Homo sapiens: one gene and its partner. The protein of the gene in region 1 interacts with the protein of each later gene in a biochemical or structural test. Each region holds a gene or a part of one and is shown on either strand. Other genes may lie near its edges.

Evidence for each region. The genes of interacting proteins can lie anywhere in the genome.
Region 2: of the proteins of PTPRG (region 1) and TIE1, one has a biochemical effect on the other in vitro, tested with the Homo sapiens proteins (one large-scale study listed by IntAct).

Annotation. Positions count from the first base shown.
Region 1 is NC_000003.12:62,271,571-62,275,070, reverse strand, and holds part of PTPRG (receptor-type tyrosine-protein phosphatase gamma isoform 1 precursor), read right to left. Parts: intron 2,126-3,500; coding exon 1,990-2,125; intron 1,374-1,989; coding exon 1,227-1,373; intron 1-1,226.
Region 2 is NC_000001.11:43,310,073-43,314,481, forward strand, and holds part of TIE1 (tyrosine-protein kinase receptor Tie-1 isoform 1 precursor), read left to right. Parts: intron 1-1,598; coding exon 1,599-1,757; intron 1,758-1,921; coding exon 1,922-2,059; intron 2,060-2,232; coding exon 2,233-2,529; intron 2,530-3,062; coding exon 3,063-3,353; intron 3,354-3,705; coding exon 3,706-3,896; intron 3,897-4,310; coding exon of another isoform or gene 4,311-4,394; exon of another isoform or gene 4,395-4,409. UniProt on the Homo sapiens protein: Transmembrane tyrosine-protein kinase that may modulate TEK/TIE2 activity and contribute to the regulation of angiogenesis.

The DNA of each region.
Region 1 (3,500 bases):
GATGCTTTAGTAAAACTCATGGTCCCTGGATATAATTTTCATTTTCAAGTTTGATTCTTGTTTTTTTCTTCATCTTGAGCTCTAAAATGGTTAGTGCCTGTAAAAGAACCAACTACCTGGTCGCATTTCTTAAATGAAGTTTTAAAGTATGTATAAAAAAAAATTGAAGAAACGAAAAAGGCAGAATTTAAGAAATGTTGGTACTTAATATTTTGTAAGAACTCATGTTAAACATTTAAAATGATACACTGTGTCCTCATTATTAATTATCTCATGGTTTTATAGTAGAATGTTAATGGGGAGCTAAAAATTTTTAATTTTATGACTGAACTCAGTGAAATTAAACTATTTTTCATTTCATATCACTTGGTATAATTTGCTTGGCAGTCTCATTTCTTCAGCTGAGATTCAAATGAAAGTTTCAGTCTATGGAAAGTTTTACCATGAAAACTAAAACTGTAGATTCATCTCATTCTTTGAATCTTGATACAAAGGGAGAAACTATTTACATACAGAACAATGTGCAAAATAGAATTTAAAAGACAAAGATAAATAGGAAAGCACTTGGTAACTGGAGAGACAGGCGATGTTTGAAAGTTAGAAGCAATTTTGATTTATTATCAGATGACTGAGCCCTAATTATTTTAATAGTCCTTATAATCTCTCTTTTTCACCTTCACTTCAGTCAATTCCATATAAACCTTAACCGCTTTTAAGCTTCTTCATGTCCCTATCAAAGAAAAAGAACAACCATTTAGGAAAAGTTAACTTTTCTCTAGTATTGTTTAGTAATTCTTTTTAAATTCCTAAATTATCTTCTGAAATAGTTTTTGAAATAGGCATATTTTTAGGACAATATGTCTACAAGTCATCATTCTTAATAATTAAGGTAAGATAGATTAGTTCAGAAAAAATAGGACATTTTTTGGACTAAACGAGTTACTTTAAAGTACTATGTCATTATGGCCAGGGGCTGATGTTTATATTCAGATAAAGTCATAAATTGCTCAGAAGAAAATACAACACTGTATATCTACTTGAATACCAACAATTCATACATAGGTCAAAACCGTATTTTCTTTTTCATCACATTTAAGGAGTACAAGGAGTACAAATAGTAATCCATTTCGGTGTATACATTAATGCAAAGAAGACATAACCCCCAAACTCAAGGCATTTAAAACATTTTCTTGCTTTATGCCAAAGAAACTTTTTCAAAGCACTACCTTGAATTGCTTTTCCAGTCGTGTCTTTCCTCCTACTCCTGGTATAAGGATGCTGTTAACATAGCTGTGCAGCTGATTTGAAGATACTTCAGTCTCCTTTCCAAGAATGGCTTCCAACAAGGCATCATGGATGAAAATGTACTGCTCCTAAGAGGTACAATACATGGTAGTCACTGAGGGAGTGTTAAGGGTTAGCCACTCATTCATGAAGTGTACCTTAGTTTAATTCTGCTGCTAACAGGGACCTCCCAGTGATTTCCTTCAAGCACTTACAGCTAGGTGATTTGCTCCAATACTCACTTTATCAGTCTTAACTTATTTTACGGTAGAGACTGTGTTAAGTTTAGCTCTGTATTCTATACTGTGCCTGGATCACGGTATTCTATACTGTGCTTATTGCTTCAACTCAATAAGCAAACAAAAAATCGTGTTCAATGAAGGGTTTTAGAACCATCCTCTCCTATGTATTTCTCAGGCCAGACAACATGTTTAACTCCCCCTACCATCTAACACAGCTCTTGAAACAACTGTATCTCTTTCGTAAGTACTTGTGTAGTTATTTAGGAATCCAAATGTTAAGATCCATACAGAAATGGAAAACTGTGATCCGTAGAATAGGATCATTGTCAGAATATCTTCTAATACAAACCTGTAAATTACTGCAAGCCCTAAAAGAATGAATCTGTCTCTTCATTATCATTTAACAAATTTCAGTTACAGCATTTGCCAGAATGTCGTGAGGACGCTGGCAGCTACTCCTTACCTCAGTCTGGACGAGGTAGTTACGCTGTGTCCTGATATGCTTCAGGAATCCCAGGACGTTAACTGTGCTTTTGTCTTTTATCTGTTGCAGCATGCTGTCTATTACAATATAGGTGCCTGTTCTGCCCACACCAGCACTGTAAGAAATGAAGACACTCAACTGGCACTTTTGTTTTATCATACTGTTAACTTTGGATTCGAAAAATTCCAATCTAAACCCCATTTATTTTATTATTTTTCTGAGATGAGATGGAGTTTCACTCTGTTGCCCAGGCTGGAGTGCAGTGGCGCAATCTCGGTTCACTGCAACCTCCGCCTCCCAGTTCAAGCAATTCTCGAGCCTCAGCCTACCGAGTAGCTGGGATTACAGATGTGTACCACTACACCCGACTAATTTTTTATCTTTAGTAGAGGTTTCACCGTGTTGGCCAGACTGGTATCGAACTCCTGACCTCAGGTGATCTGCCCACTTTGGCCTCCCAAACTGCTGGAATTACATGTGTGAGCCACCACTCCCAGCCTAAACCCCACTTAGATAACCTTAGATGACGTACGTTATTCACTTAGCATTGCAACATAAATCACAGAACAAGCGACATGTATTTGAGTACCAAAGTTTAAAACAAACAAAAAAGAGGCAAGAATGCATTTTCAAATGAAACAGAATAAAAGCATTTTTAAACAACCAACTAAAGTCATTTACTGTGGCTGACAAAAAACAAGCTTTATACAAGGATTTCCCAGTGCTTTTGAAAAGGTATTTTATATGGAACATTTAAACTAAAAATTTAAAAATGAAATATTTTCATATATACTATAAATATTGTTATTTAGAAGAACCTTTCAGAAAAGCCATTTACAAAAACACAATCTCTATTCTAGTGTGGAAAGTTCTTGTGTTTAACGTCATATTTTTATTTATTAGGATCAGGCTACAATTTTCCTATAAACAATGGGGATTTTGTAATTTTTTCTTTTTTTTTTTGAGTCATGATCTTGCTCTATCATCACCCAGGCTGGAGTGCAGTTATGTGAACACAGCCCACTGCAGCCTTGACCTACTGGGTTCAAGGGATCCTTCTGTCTCAGCCTCCCATGTAGCTGGGACCACAGGCATGTGCCACCATGCTGGCTAATTTTTTTATTTTTAATTTTTGTAGAAATGGGGTGTCACTTTGTTGCCCAGGCTGGTCTCAAACTCCTGGGCTCAAGTGATCCACCCACCTCAGCCTCCCAAAGTGCTGGGATTACAGGAGTTGGCCTCCATGCCTGGCTGATATTATTAATAAGAAGATTTTATAAAAACTAGGGATTGATCTAGTTTTTTAAAAATCACAGAAGCAGCAGATGATTTCTTAATGTTACAGGAATAGAGCCTCTTTAAGACTATCATAGGTCTTATCCATCCCAGTTTCCAGTGGAAGATTCAGCTTCTAAGTGAAAGCAGTAGCAATCATTGTGGTCCAAGGTCACTGAGGCCTAAGTCCCCTGCCCCATCTATTTCACATGTTG
Region 2 (4,409 bases), on another chromosome or scaffold:
CTTCTCCAGCACCCTAAGTCTTAACCATTCACACCCCTGCCACCCCCTGACCCTGCTGTCCCTCTGCTCCTGCCACCCCATGTAAGCCCCCTCTCTCACCTTCTGCTTTCTCGTTGCCACACTCTGCCTCCCAGGTCCTCGCCATCTCCCTATCCCGTGACTATGCATGACTCTCTGCCATCAAGCCTCACCTTCCGCCTTTCTCTTCTCACTGTGCCCAGGCTTAGGAGCCAGACAACCTGGGCTTGAATCCTCTCTCCACAAATTCCTTGCCCCATCACCTTAAGGAAACTACTTAACCTCTCTTACTTTGTTTCTCTCTTTGTGAAATGGGGATAGCTAGCACTTGATGGGGTTGTTACAAAGATTAAATTTGATGATGTATTTAAGCATTTAGCACAGTGCCCGATACAGGGTGTGTGCTCAATGTATGTCGATAATTATTGTTATTATTTAAAATGTCACCTAGTCCCTAGATTTTGATAGTTCTCTGGCAGCTCTCACATATGATCTGCAGCCAGGACCCCTCTTCTGACTCCAGATCATTTGGTGGGGACTCCATGAAGTGGGGCATCTACTCTGGAAGTCTGGTTTTGAAGTTGGTGTGGAAAGTAGCTGCTGTATGATTCGGAGGCCCATTTTATATCCAGCCACTTCCTGGACATCTAATCCCCTGCGTGAGCCAAAGGCACCAAGGGCTTCTCTGCACCCAAAATGGACCTTCATCTCCCCGCAAATCAGCACTGCCCTCCTGACATGCTCATTGCTGCCTGACACTCCCTCAGCTTACAGCGCGGCATCCTTTTCCTCCCTCGCTCCCTCCCTCTTTCCTTCCTTCCTTTCCTCTCAAAAAGCCAATCTGGTAAACATTTGTAAGAGTCAAGGGAACCTGTTAAAAGCACTAATGCAATAATCTGGAGAGAAAAAGTTGAGGCCAGAATAGGAGCAGCGATCATGGGGTGAGGAAGTGGGGCAGGAACAAGAAGGCTGTTTTGGAGTAGAATGGATAGATCTGAGGCGGCCTGCGCAGACAGACCTAGTTCAACACATGGCTGTATCTCCTTCTAGTTGTGTGTCCTTAGGCAAGTTATTCGGTGTCTCTGAGTCTCAGTGTTTTCATAATGCAGGGTAATGTGCCCTGACAGAAAGGTGGCTGTGAGAATTAGAGGTCATGCTATGAAGCGTGTGGCGGGGAGCAGGTGCTTCAGTGCCAGTGCCATTTTTTTTTTTTAATAAGAGAGTGGTGAATGAGGGCAGGGGCAGAGAGCAGGATGATGCCCAGGTAGTCTCCCTGACCTGGGTTTCGGCCCCTTCTGTCTACCCCCACACTGCATGGGAAGAGTGCACCCCCAAACCATGTCTGGCCATGTCACTTCCTCATCTACCATCTTTTGGGACACCCTCATGCCTTTATTGCTTAATCCTTGTGCCCCAAGCTACCCAGGGGCCTGAACTCTGTCCTCCCTGGGCCCTGGCCACTATGGTCATCTGTTGAACTTGGTGTCCCTCAAGCCCAGAGGGTCCCCAGCTTGAAACAAAGATGCAGAAGTGGACTGGATAGGCTGTGTGCCCATGCCTTACCCTGAGTCTCCTGGCAGTGCCCCCCGTGCCCCTGGCTGCACCTCGGCTCCTGACCAAGCAGAGCCGCCAGCTTGTGGTCTCCCCGCTGGTCTCGTTCTCTGGGGATGGACCCATCTCCACTGTCCGCCTGCACTACCGGCCCCAGGACAGTACCATGGACTGGTCGACCATTGTGGGTGAGTAGGGAGAGAGCTGGGGCAGGACAGAGGTGTTGGGTAATAGTGAAGGGATACAGTGAGCAGGAGAGGGAGGGCAAATGGTGCGAGGGGGCTGAAGGGAGCATGGCAGCTTCTAGAAGAGGTGGGGGCTGAATAATGTGTGCTTTACACCCCACGCCCAGTGGACCCCAGTGAGAACGTGACGTTAATGAACCTGAGGCCAAAGACAGGATACAGTGTTCGTGTGCAGCTGAGCCGGCCAGGGGAAGGAGGAGAGGGGGCCTGGGGGCCTCCCACCCTCATGACCACAGACTGTCCTGGTGAGAGGCCAAGAGTCATCCCTTCCTGTCCCCCCAAGGGTTACTTTCCCGTCGACCCCAGGGACCCCTGCCTTTCCCACTGGAGGTTGTTCTTCCTTGTTCACTGGGGATCATTGTCCTGTCCAGCCCCAAGTACCTACTGGACAGTTCTGACCCCTGACCTCTGGCCCCAGAGCCTTTGTTGCAGCCGTGGTTGGAGGGCTGGCATGTGGAAGGCACTGACCGGCTGCGAGTGAGCTGGTCCTTGCCCTTGGTGCCCGGGCCACTGGTGGGCGACGGTTTCCTGCTGCGCCTGTGGGACGGGACACGGGGGCAGGAGCGGCGGGAGAACGTCTCATCCCCCCAGGCCCGCACTGCCCTCCTGACGGGACTCACGCCTGGCACCCACTACCAGCTGGATGTGCAGCTCTACCACTGCACCCTCCTGGGCCCGGCCTCGCCCCCTGCACACGTGCTTCTGCCCCCCAGTGGTATGTGCAAGGCGCAAGGATAGCTGGGGGTTGGGGGAGGACGTGGGACACAGGGACACATGAGACCTAGGAGACACGGGAGGCTGTAGGAGATTAATGGACATGGAGAGGACACAGGACACACATAGGGTATTAGGCAGACGTGACCCCAGCGGGGACATGGGACTTGGGGAAGATCCAGGGTACCAGGAGGACACAGATCACCAGGAGCATGTGGGGAGAGCATGGGGAGGTCAGGGTTCATGGCGAGAACCAGGGTCATGGGAGGGCATGAGACTTGCGGAACACAGGGCATGGGCGGATGTGGAGAGGACTTGGGATACAAGAAGTACAAGGAGAAGCAGAAGCTTGAGGGTGAAAGTGGCCTGGGGGAATGGAGAGGAATTCAGTCTGGTGGGGAGGAGGAAGTTGGCAGGGTGGCCCCTGTGCTTGGACCCACAGAGGAGGGAGCACAGCTAGAGCAGATGTGTCCAGCCCCACAGCTACATAGCCCGGTCCTATCTGAGCCTTGCCTTCCCCCACCATCTCCCCAGGGCCTCCAGCCCCCCGACACCTCCACGCCCAGGCCCTCTCAGACTCCGAGATCCAGCTGACATGGAAGCACCCGGAGGCTCTGCCTGGGCCAATATCCAAGTACGTTGTGGAGGTGCAGGTGGCTGGGGGTGCAGGAGACCCACTGTGGATAGACGTGGACAGGCCTGAGGAGACAAGCACCATCATCCGTGGCCTCAACGCCAGCACGCGCTACCTCTTCCGCATGCGGGCCAGCATTCAGGGGCTCGGGGACTGGAGCAACACAGTAGAAGAGTCCACCCTGGGCAACGGTGAGAGGGCAGGGCCCACAGGACCCCCCGGGCTCTGAGCGGGGAGAGCTCAGCACGCTCTCCTTCCACATCACCCCCTACTGTGGAGCTAGGGCATCCCAGGCCCCTCCTGACAAAGAGTCAGCCCCAGTCCTGGGGACTCAGCCTTCCATTCTCATGATCCACTGTCCCAGGGCTGGGAAAATCATGTCGCCCCTCTGACACCCCTCATCCCTTCCTTCATGTGGCCCAAGTGATTTCCTGACAGTCCTGGCACTGGGATCTTTCACCTCTCCCTCTGTGTAACCCCATGGTGGCCTCTGGGTTCCCTGACCCAGGTGTCCCCACAATCTGCCCCTCTCACTGTGTCCAGGGCTGCAGGCTGAGGGCCCAGTCCAAGAGAGCCGGGCAGCTGAAGAGGGCCTGGATCAGCAGCTGATCCTGGCGGTGGTGGGCTCCGTGTCTGCCACCTGCCTCACCATCCTGGCTGCCCTTTTAACCCTGGTGTGCATCCGCAGAAGCTGCCTGCATCGGAGACGCACCTTCACCTACCAGTCAGGCTCGGTCAGTGACCCGCCCCGCCCCTGGGTGCATGCTTGCAGCCCGTGTTTATGTTTCTACCTGTGTACACACAATACCTTGTACACCTTGTGTGTGTGTGTGTGTGTGTGTTTATGTTGCAGGTATAAGATTACACTCAACAATGTTCAAGGGTACAAAATATAATTTTCTTTATTTCTCTAAAACTGAATTCAGCTCATGAGCCCATTTATATTAGTGGTGAAATATTTAATATTCCCATTTCAAAAGAATTCCGTGATGACCATATTTCACAATGGACATTCCAGTTTTGGGCTCCGTCAATTGGAGATTTTCCTCTCCCCTCTTTTATTTCTCCCTAGCGGTTATCTAGGCCTAGATAGCAAGGTGATCAAATGGAAGGGCACTTGGGGTTCATGCTGGCTTTTGTCCTTGCAGGCCTTCCTGGGCTCGGGAGCCAGCCTCTGTCTGCACACATCTTTGGCTGATGTTCTTAGCCCTGCTGTGGCCACCTGCCAGTAGGCCAGTCATGCTGTG